Regions from separate parts of the Homo sapiens genome. Here region 2 is linked to region 1. Evidence: fine-mapped expression QTL. A gene starts in region 1. The other region holds a variant in brackets. All regions are shown on one strand. Distances are between the middles of the regions. Region 1 holds the start of ASTN2 (astrotactin 2). Region 2 overlaps ASTN2 (astrotactin 2).

Evidence for each region. PIP is the estimated chance that this variant, and not a neighbour inherited with it, causes the effect. A credible set is the group of variants that fine-mapping cannot tell apart.
Region 2: its variant is the best candidate, but not a certain one, in a credible set for the expression of ASTN2 in whole blood (TOPMed, PIP 0.86).

The regions. Positions count from the first base shown.
Region 1 is chr9:117,412,187-117,417,563 of GRCh38, reverse strand. ASTN2 (astrotactin 2) reads left to right here and starts at 2,507. Exons shown (of 23, transcript NM_001365068.1): 1 at 2,507-3,067. The coding sequence starts at 2,626.
Region 2 is chr9:116,706,182-116,711,558 of GRCh38, reverse strand. All of the region lies in intron 16 of ASTN2 (astrotactin 2), which reads left to right. Among named protein-coding and RNA genes, the nearest start is that of TRIM32, 22 kb to the right of the region's middle. The variant T/G (reference allele first, on the strand shown) is at 2,879.

The DNA.
Region 1 (5,377 bases):
GGAGGTGGGCTGTGCCTTAAAAGATAAAACATTCTCTGATGTAGGAAAGGGATTTATTCATTTACTAAGCAGTTGCAAAGAATGCCAAATGCCAACTTTAACCTAGAATGCCCACTCCCTTGTTACTAATCTTTATGGTTCAATTCCAAAGCCACCGCCTCTGGGAAGCTTTCTTTGATTTCTCCAAGTACCTCATCTTAGGAAACACATGTCTGCCTGCCTGCCCATTACCTGAGATATTTATGTGCCTGTCTCTTTCCGGCATCCCACCCCCTCACCCCAATCATTATAAGCTTTCCAAAGGCAGGAGTTGTGTTTATCCATCCCTGCATCTCCATATAGCACCTGGTAGGCACCCTGAATATTTGGTGATGAATGAATGAATGAATGAAAGTGTTGGTCTCATTTGACAGGCCTTTGTACTAGAGGTCCATGAAGGACTTGCACAGACTCTGCCTTACATAAGGGAGCCCTTTTTTCCTGGTGTGCTCTTCTGTAAATGGACTATGTCAGCATATTTGAAGAAAGGGGCATAGAGAATCAGAAAGCCCCATTGCGGTGGATAGTGGCGGATTGTAAGGACACAAAGGAGAGACTGAGGGAGGCAGGGTGACATATTTTGGAGGAGTAAATGAACTAGAGCAGGCATCAGAGAGGCAGGAGACCATTTAGAATTAGAGGACTTGAAAGGCCAGATTCCACCCCAACCTCCACACATCCTTTGGGTTCACAGATTAGTAAACTGAGACAGGAGAAGTATACCTTACAAACCTCACAGGGAAGTAGATCCAACTGTGCTTATGCAGATTTACCTTTTACAGCATCTTTGATGGGTGGGGTTTTCCAAGGTCACTGAGGACAGTGTAATTTAAGGGAAACAGTCAAGGCTTGAAGCCTACTGTTCAAACCTCAGCTCTTCAGCTCATTTGCTATACGACCTTGGAAAATCCCTTCACCTCCCTGACCACCTGATCTCAGTTTCCTCACATGGAAAATGGGAATCATAATATCCATCTTTTTGGATTATGGTCATGTAAAAAAGCTAACATACGTACATGTCTAGCATTTGGAGAATGCTTTAAACACATTAAGTCCAAGGTCGCAAAACAGCTTTTGCTTTTTTCCTTATTTTCAGTGCTCTGCCTTTATCCAACGTTATTAAAAAATATATGATGAGAGAGGAGAAAAGCAATTTATATGAAGGGTTAAAGATAGAAAAGGGGAATGAGACAGAAGAGGGAAGAGCTAAGAGAAAAGTGAATGCATAGAGACAGCACAAAAGGTGCAGATGGGTAAGCTAGACAGAGATGAGAAGTTGCTCACAAATTATAGGAAAGAAGCATTTGTAAGATTAAAGTCAAGATGAGAAGGAAGGAAATGAATGGAGAGATGAAACAGAAAACAGAGACAGGGAAGATGAAGAAAAGTAGGGGAGTGGGGAAGGGGCTGCACGGCACTTGACCCATGCAGAGGTGTCCGCTCCCTGGAGGGTCTCAGGTATGTGGGTCAGAGACAGAGTCAGCCCAAGACCAAAGGGTGCTGAATCTGAGGACCTAGCTCAACTTGAGTCTAGAAAGACTGCAGGTGAAGAATTGGTGAGCACTCCCGTTCTCTGGGACTTGGGCAGAGGATCTAAAAGACCCGGGAGCCAAGGACAGACAGAATAGTAGGTCTCTACCTCACACCCTTTTCAGGAATTTCACACAGAGAGCAGAAGCAGCCAAGTAGAGCTGCTCCAAGCTGGGAGCAGGGATCCAAAATAAAAAAGCGTGAGTGGGCTGGCTTGCAGGGCGGCAGCTAGGGGGCCAGAACAGCCCGGCTTCAGTCAGTTGTGGGGTCGGCGTTAGACGGTGGAGTTCGACGCCCCTCTGTCCATTAGCAATTAGTGCTAGCACAAGGCCTGGATGGAGGGGAGAGGAAGGTTTGCGGGCAGTGGGAGAATGAATGCAGGAGTTGTGGCCAAGTGGGTGGGAAGGGGGCTCTGAGGCTACAGGAAGTTATTTCAGAGACTAGAAAAGGGTAGGAGATTGGAGAAAGGACTTGTTCTTGGGCCTGAGGGGAGACAAAGTTAAGTCTTGGCTATCCAGGGGGCTCCCTATCCCCAAGAAGGCGGGGCCTTGAGCAAGGCTGGGCCAAGGCGCGCCCCCAGGTGCAGCCTCTGGGTTGAGCCGAAGGTGGGGTGAAGCCAGGAGAACTGGGTTGAGTCAGGGGGGCTTGGGGGGGCCCGAGGGGGCCCTAAGTATTAGGAATTTGGGGAGTTTAGGGAGGGGTGTTGTGGCTAAAGAATGCTGTGAGGGCGGAATTGGGGGATCTTGGGAAAGGGGAGGGAGCCACTGGGACTTGCACGAGGCCGGGCGGAGCCTCCGAAACGCTCGGGGTCTGCGGGGGGAGCCGGAGATCGGGGACGGGCGGCTGGGCCCCGGGAGGCGGCGCGGGGGGGCGGTCCAGGGCCGATCGGGAGGCGGAGCCCGGAGCTGGGGGCTGCTGGCGAGCGGCTCTCTCCGCTCCTTAGCTCGGGCGTCCTGGTTCGCTTCGGCGTCCGCCGTCTCCGCAGCTGCCTCCTCTTCCTCCTTCGCCACCGCCGCCACCGCCGCCGCCGCCCGCAGCACCGCAGCCCCTCCCGCCATGGCCGCCGCCGGCGCCCGGCTCAGCCCCGGCCCCGGCTCGGGGCTCCGGGGGCGGCCGAGGCTCTGCTTCCACCCGGGGCCGCCGCCACTGCTGCCGCTGCTGCTGCTGTTCCTGCTCCTGCTGCCGCCGCCGCCGCTGCTGGCCGGCGCCACCGCCGCTGCCTCGCGGGAGCCCGACAGCCCGTGCCGGCTGAAGACCGTCACGGTGTCCACACTGCCCGCCCTGCGGGAGAGCGACATCGGCTGGAGCGGCGCCCGCGCCGGGGCCGGGGCTGGGACCGGGGCCGGAGCCGCCGCCGCCGCCGCGTCCCCGGGCTCTCCTGGCTCTGCCGGCACCGCCGCCGAGTCGCGCCTCCTGCTCTTTGTGCGTAACGAGCTGCCGGGGCGCATCGCGGTGCAGGACGACCTGGACAACACCGAGCTGCCCTTCTTCACCCTGGGTAAGGCTGGGCGCCGGCACGCGCTAGATCCCAAGGAACCCCGAGCCCCTGCGTCATGCCGGACGGGTGGGGGCGCCCTGGGGATCCCTGCCCGGGGCTGCCCCGAGTGGGGTTGGCAGAGGGTAGAGGAGGGGCCCAGAGGTCGCACAGGTGGTTGGAAACGAGCATGTGGGAGGAGGTCCTGGAGAGCGCGCGGCGGGAGCCTGGGGGCGTGCCAACCCTCCCGCAGTGGGAACCTGCCCCTCTGCCTCTCAGTCCCGACCTGGAGCTCTGCTTGATCCATCCCGGAAGCCGGAGACCCCATTCACTGAAGGTGCTCTGGCTAGGGGCCGGAGCATCCCAGATCCTAAGCCAGTTTCAGGTCGAGCCTCCCACTTCTCCGGGTACCGTCACTGGCCACCCGCCGTCACCGCCCCCTCGCTCTCGCCTCGGAGTTGCGGGTTCTGCCCTTCCAGATGGATTTTCATGAGAGTAGGAATGGAGTAGTTCCGTGTGGAATCGCTCAACCCGCAAAAGCGTGGCTTCCGCATGGGCTGAGTGACCTTGGCCAAGTCGCTTCCCTTCTCTGAGCCTCAGTTCTGGCCATCTGTGAAATAGGGCTGGAGAGACTTGAGTGGTTGCTGAGAACTGGGATTCCGACTCCGAGGTCTCCACGTTTAGAGCCTCCCTCTACCCCCGTTACCGCCTTCCCTTTCTACCCACCTCCAGGCAGAGAGCCGGTTTGTCCTTGCAGCTCACTCCCTGGGCTAATAATAATTACTTAAAGGCAAGAAAAAGGAGAGGAGAGGAGATGGGTGTGGGTGGGGGGCTCCAACGGAAAAGTTAATCAGAAAAGTTCGCCAGCAGCTTGCTGCCTGCTGGTTCCCTGCGCGAATCCCGGAGGAGTCGGCCCTTCAGTGGAGCTGTGGGAAGCGCAGCTGATTTCCCACCCGGGTAATTGATAGCTTAATTATCTCGGAGAGCGTTTACAAAAATGTTGTTCCCCTTAGCTCTCCCGCGCTCGCTGCTTGCTCGCTCTCCCCTCCCCTCTTGGGGGCGCGGGGCCTTATTGGTTGTCGGAGTCTGGCCAACAACAGCGCCCGTGAGGCGCCAGGGGCTCGCCCAGACCCGGAGCTCTTCTTCCCCGGGTCTTTTCCTCGGCGGGATCCGCCTCGGGCACCGCAGGTGAGGGGCCTTCCAGGTGAGAACCTTTACGATCCCTGAACTTCCGAGGTTAACTCCTTGCTCGCCTGAAAAGACCCACAGAATAATCAGCGGACTACGCTCCACTCTCCTGGTAGCCCTGATATTGTTAAAAGTATTTTTGTGACCCACTCCCCATCCTTTCATGCTACCACCTCTGGGGATTTGAGCGAGTGCCAGTGGTTCTCCCGCTCTGAGCTTGAACCTCGGGGGTCGAGCCCCTGTACCCACCCTCGCAGGCTGTAACCTGAGCGTGCCGAGCGTTCCGGGAGGAGAGGCAGCGGAGCGTCCTGCAGGTTCCTCGGGGACTCCCCGCGGCGGCGCTTCTGGGGTGCGACGCACCAAGCACACACACACAGACACACACAAACCAGTAGCTCTTCCCACGTGCACCTGTGGGGCTGCCCATGTCCGAGAAAGGGAAGGAGGGTGGAGGTGGTGTTCCTTAGAGCGCCGCCGGACTAACCTCAGGCTCACAGCTGGCTCTTGCCACCTCCCCGTGGGGAAGGGTCTTTCTAGAGACACAGAAGGTATCCCTTCACTACCACTTCCATTCCTGACCTTCTCCCTTCATCCTTTAGATCTCTCTACTCCGGGGTACTCTGAGAGATGAGGGGTGGAAATCCTCCCGCCCCCCAAACGGCCATTCAAGTGAAGGGATGAGACGGTCCTTGGGTATGGCCTGACTTGGCAGTGAGGACCACAGAGCATTTCAAGTCTTCGAGGATATGGAGGACCTGCTCCAACCATCTGTATAGGTGCCCCGGGATTCCTGGAACTGACAATCTTTGCCATTTTTAACTTTGGCTTTCAAACAGGATGGGTGCCTGTGAGCCTGGGACAAGCTGAGTGAGGACCTGAGCGAGGAATTAGAAGTCTTGATTCCCCCAGGACCCATGTGTTGCTTGAGAGTCTCCTGGCAACAACCTGCACATGGAGACTTCCCCCTCCTCTGATGCACGGTCCCTGAGCCTGGCAGCTTGGGACCCTCTGCCCCTTGGAGAGCACGGGGCTGGCCTCCTTGGCAGCGCTGAGCCTTTTGGATGCATGCGGGGGATTGGGTTCTTGCCTCCTCCTTTTCCCCCTAGCGCCCTGGGCTGGCAGCTTTAGGCGCTCTCAACGGGGATT
Region 2 (5,377 bases), 710 kb after region 1:
GGGCAGCTGGGTATACACCAATCTGGTGATCAAAAAGAAGGTAAGACATGAAAAATACAGTTTGGTATGTAGCTGCATACATGATTGAAGTCATAGAAAAAGATGGTATCGTCCAGAAGAAAAATAAATGTTCCCTTTTGCAATTTGTTTTCTTAAGCTACTTTCCTGCTGCCATACCTTGTATTATTTCTGACATTTTATTTAGAGACATTTTATTTCATTCAGAGAGGCTGACTATGCTGCTCATTTTTAGGCAGCTTTTACTTGTGTAAAATGTTATGGGGCATTGAAGAGTAGTTGTAGTACATATTAAATAGGCTGGAGTTAATATGCCCATTTCATTGAGGAGAATAAATAGGCATAGTCGCCAGAGCAGAAAGGAGGAATACACACTTTCAGGGTTGTTGCTTGAGCATTTGCACCTTACATTTAGCTAATTAGCCTTCTATGCAGGGTCTACGGTATATTTGCCTATTTGTATGTGGCCTTTCTTCCAGTGTATCAATTAATGGAAGTTTCATTCTTCTATATCCAGTCCCTGAGTCTTGGATCAGGCAAGGTAATATGCATGTCTAATGCCTTTCCATCCTTTCAGGCCATGACATTCTTCATTTAACTTCATTTCTTACACTTTTACAGAATCATTAAATGTGTCAAACAAGTTTCATATCTTGGGGTCTGAGAGATTTAGAGATTTATTACTAGTTTTAAGTTTAAATATTAAACGTCATTTCACAAAACACATGGCTTTATTCATGTGGTTGCTCAGAACTTACAAAATTTTCTTTCTTTTTTCTCTTCTTTTTTTTTTTTTTTTTTTTTTTTGAGACGGAGTTTCACTCTTGTTGCCCAGGCTGGAGTGCAATGGTGTGATCTCAGCTCACCGCAACCTCCACCTCCTGGGCTCGAGTGATTCTCCTCCCTCAGACTTCCCCGAGTAGCTGGGATTACAGGCATGCGCCACCATGCCTTGCTAATTTTGTATTTTTAGTAGAGACAGGGTTTCTCCATGTTGGTCAGGCTGGTCTCAAACCCCCGACCTCAGGTGATTCCCCCCTCCTTGGCCTCCCAAAATGCTGTGATTACAGGCGTGAGCTCACTGCACCTGGTCTGAAATTGTCATTTATCGTAATATGAAATTTCTTTCAATATTTAACTCTAAACATCTGTTGTCACTCAGAAGTAGTGGGATGTACCCCCACCCAACATTTGCTTCAGATGTTGAGGCTGATGATACCACACACACACACCAAGAAGATATGAAAAGATGTATCACTCACATAATGAAGCTTTCTAGGGAGAGCAGAGGGAGCTTCCAAACAGGTCCAAACATGGTTTGAGAAAGCAGGGAAAGGAGACTGGCTTGGATTGGGAGGTGAGGGGTGTAGGGTAAGGTTGGGGAGGTTCTCATATATTATCTGGGGCTTGCATGGATTGAGCTTCCCTCTGGCACCAAAGGTAGGCCTACCTAGGCTTCCCTATCAGTTTTCCCAGATGTGAAGCTGAAGAAGAGGGAGTAAGTAGAAGAATTTGAAAGTTGTTAGCAGTCAAGTACCAAAAATGGAGTCAGAATCTTTATTACGATTCATCCCTGATATTTGACTGATGACTGAAATGTGGCATGTTTCATTTAATTGAACTTGAACTTGTTTAGGTAAAATAAACCATTATGGCTTTCTATGAGGCCTGCAGCCTGAGGCTGGTAAGGGAGGTGAAAGTTCCATTAAATGCCTTGTACAAGAGCCCAATATTATGTATTTTGAGATGTGAAATGAATGCCTTAGTCACTATCAATAATTTCTAGACTACTGAAGGGGTTAAAGTGTTAATGAGGCCTTTTATTGTGGATTTATTGTGAGTAGAAATGACCTTGACTTATACTTTGAGTATAAGTATATATATATGAGGCAAGAGAGTCACAGAGTTATTTAACCCAAAGAGGCAACCTTGGATAGAAAACTGTTTTTGCTGCTATTGGCTGGAGCAGATGAGCAAATCACTGGCAGTGGTTCAACAGTCTATAGAACTGTGCAGATGTTGGTCAGGGTATTCAGTGCTAAAAGGACCGCATAAAGTTTGGCCAGTTGTGCTGACTTGGGTCCTGTTTCATTATCAGGGATGTCCCAGTTATGGGCTAAAAATCAGGAACTTTCCAGCAAGCTCCATCACATACAATGGTAGTGATACCATCTATAAAGTGGAGAAACTCCCTTTACTCTTCACTCTGTTGATTGCAAGGGCTTCCACAGATATCCAAAGGGTCTGGGAAGGGGGATGACTTTTACCAGCACCATGGTATTTAGCAAGGGGCTGAGGGTGGTGGTGGGAGACTTTTTCCTATAGGTGAAATATGCCAGGTTTGGCTCTATGCTACAGCAAGGAAACCTCAGTGGCTATGTTGAACTTTTAGGGTGTGATTTCAAGACCCAAGGGATAATGGGCAGCTGGTATGGAGAGTCACAGGCTGAGGGCCGGTGACAACCAGCCTGTTTCCAGGAGAGTCCAATATGCAGCCAGCAATTGCACTCTAATGGCATATAGCATGGGGCTGAAGGGACAGTTTATGGCACAAGATGCCTGTGGGCAACTTAGGGCCATCAAGTGTGGGCCAGAGACTTCAGGAATCATGGGAGGAGGTTGCTAAAGCCTTTAAGTAAAGGACTCTCAGGGGTCACTAATTGCAGTGCCTGTATTATAATTCATAAGTGAGCTTAAGTAATAGTATAAACGGGTTTAAGTAAAATTTGTAAATGAGAAATATGCTGTCTCCAGAACTCAAAATAGACTAAAACATATTGGGCTTTTAAAAAAATTGCGAATGCTGTTTCTGGCAAGTGTCAGGGATAGAATGGCCCTCAGCTAAATAGCTTTCAGGAAT[T/G]TATCCAAGGTGGAAGGACTTGGTAATTTGTGTGGGGTAGTGGTCCATCCCTTTTTCGTGAGCTCTTTTATGATTATGACTATATGTGTCCTCAGTGAGTGTGCCAAATGAACCTTCTTGGAGGATGATGTGATCAGTATGATCAGTGTTTACTGTGCTCCTGAAGAAAGTTAAATGTGGTCAAGATCTTGTCTGCAGGCTGTGTGAAGACCTGGCTGTTGTTATCCCATGAGTAGCTGAGTAAAAGGATACTGCATCCCTTTGATGGTGAAGGCAAATTGTGGCTGAGTCGCTGCTAAAATATTAGCCAAATCTATGAATTAAAAGTATTTACCAGTTGTTGATTAAAGTTAGTAATTTTGATAATATTTGATATGGGAGCCTTATTGGATAGAACTTCAGCATTAACATGGCAATAATCTACTGTGAGATGCCATTCATTCTTTCTAGGTTTCTGAACAGGCTACATTGGGCCATTAATGGTGAAGCAGTGGGGATAGTCACTCTTCTCCAAATAGGTCTGGTATATGGGTTTCAAACCTCAAAGACTCTGTTTTAATTTAAATTGGGCCATATTAACTATTTTAACTAACGGAGGAGGGGAAGGTCCATGCCGTCCCATTTTGGCAAGCTGATTTGTAAGTGCCAAAGACTTAATTCAATTTTAATTTATTACTCATTGGGTTAGAGCATCCATGCCCACTATGGGATATTTTAAGTTAATGGGTGCTATGGCTATGGGGGAATTTAGGCAGGGCAATAGTTCTGATTAAGATGAGGCATATCTATTTGTCTTCCTAACATGTCCTAAAATATCCTCAGTTAACTACCCTAAGATTATAGGGGTACTTTGTTTAAATTTAGGGGAATTCCAGGTATAATTTGAAGCCCAATATTAAGGCTATGAAGGGTTGACAACTGGTGCATTTCAGCAAATGTTAAAAGTTAATTCGGAACCTAGGTTGTAGAGGTACAAAAGCCAAATAGTAACCTTTTATCTTGTTTTGTTGTTGTTGCAAAAATTCTTTAATTTTGGATTTCCAATTGGGTCAAATTGTGAACCTCTGTTTTAGTTTTTTGTTTCTTTCCCCCAGTATCCAAGTTTATTTTATTTTCCTTTTGGTGGCTACCGTATATCATTTGGTGGTGGTGTGGGGAGGGGTTGGGGAGGAGGGAAGGTCCTCTCGATCCTGCTCATATGTGTAAGATTCTTCCTCCAGAGTTGCAAATACATATAATCAGGATTAGGTTCTCTCCCGTGCCAACAGTTGCTTTATAGGGTTTGAGGACCCAGTGCTTAAGTTGGCTTTGAAAGAACTCCTTGGCTATAGCATGGATGCTTTTCCCTATAACCCTTAGGATCAGGAATTTTTTTTTTTTTTTTTTTTTTTTTTTGGTCAGGGGGCATAGTGGCATAGGGCATAGGCAGAAGTAGGAAGAAAGGCATTTTGTAAAGTCCTAGTAAACCATCTGCTTTTGGGAGTGTGCACCATAGCATTCAACATGGTCTTCGTCCATGAGTGACTACCAACCAGCCTGCATATTGCATAGGGTATGACTGTTTCTTTTGAGTACGCCATACAATGAGGGCAACACCTGGTTGAGATAAACAACCAAAAGTCACAGGGTAAGAGTCATTCCTCTGAGCCTCGTGACAGTCACAGCTGACACTGGGATCCAGAAACACAATTCAGAGACACAGGTAAGTCTCGACCAAGACACATGACCCAGGGCCACTTTAATCTTGTTCTTAAATGCCACTTTATTCTTGTTCTTAAATGCCAATTATCAAAAATTCCAACTTAGCTGAGCACATCTATAACAGAAGCTTGGTAAGGCTCAGTGAACGCAGTACAAAGCAGCACAGCACAAAGCATGAGCTTGCCAGCAGTGACAAAAAAAAAAAAAAAAAAAAAAAAATTCTAGCCAGCAAGAGTCAGTTAGCAAACTAAAGCAAGAGGAGAGCCCTGCAGTGGTAGTGGTCATCTCCTAGACCCTCTGCTTGTTGCATAAAGTGTTTAGTCATCCCACAGAGGAGAGGTTGAACCCCTTACCCAAAACTTGGTTTAGGTGTTAGGACTGATGTTACATTAGGACCAAATAGATATGAAAAGGTTTATCACTCACACGAGGCTTTTACAGAGAGCAGCGAGTTCTCAAGCAGGTCCAGAAATGGCTTGAGCAGGGAAAGTAGAGGAGCCTGGCTTTTCCTAGTGGCTTGGAGGTAGGGCTGCAGTGAGGATTCTTAGGTGGTTTGAACTTCCACCAGGCACAAAGGTGGAAGCATTTGAGCTTTCTTACTGGCATGTCCAGATATGGGGCGGAAGGGGGAATAATAGGTTTTAAAAACTCAGCCAGTCAGACATCAACAAATGAGTCTGACTGTACTACAAAGTTGTACTAAGATTACAGCACTTATTTGGCGTAGGCTTCTGAGGGGAGAAAAATTTGATATTATTTCAGAATTTTTAAAGGACAGAAAATGTATTTCTGAGACAA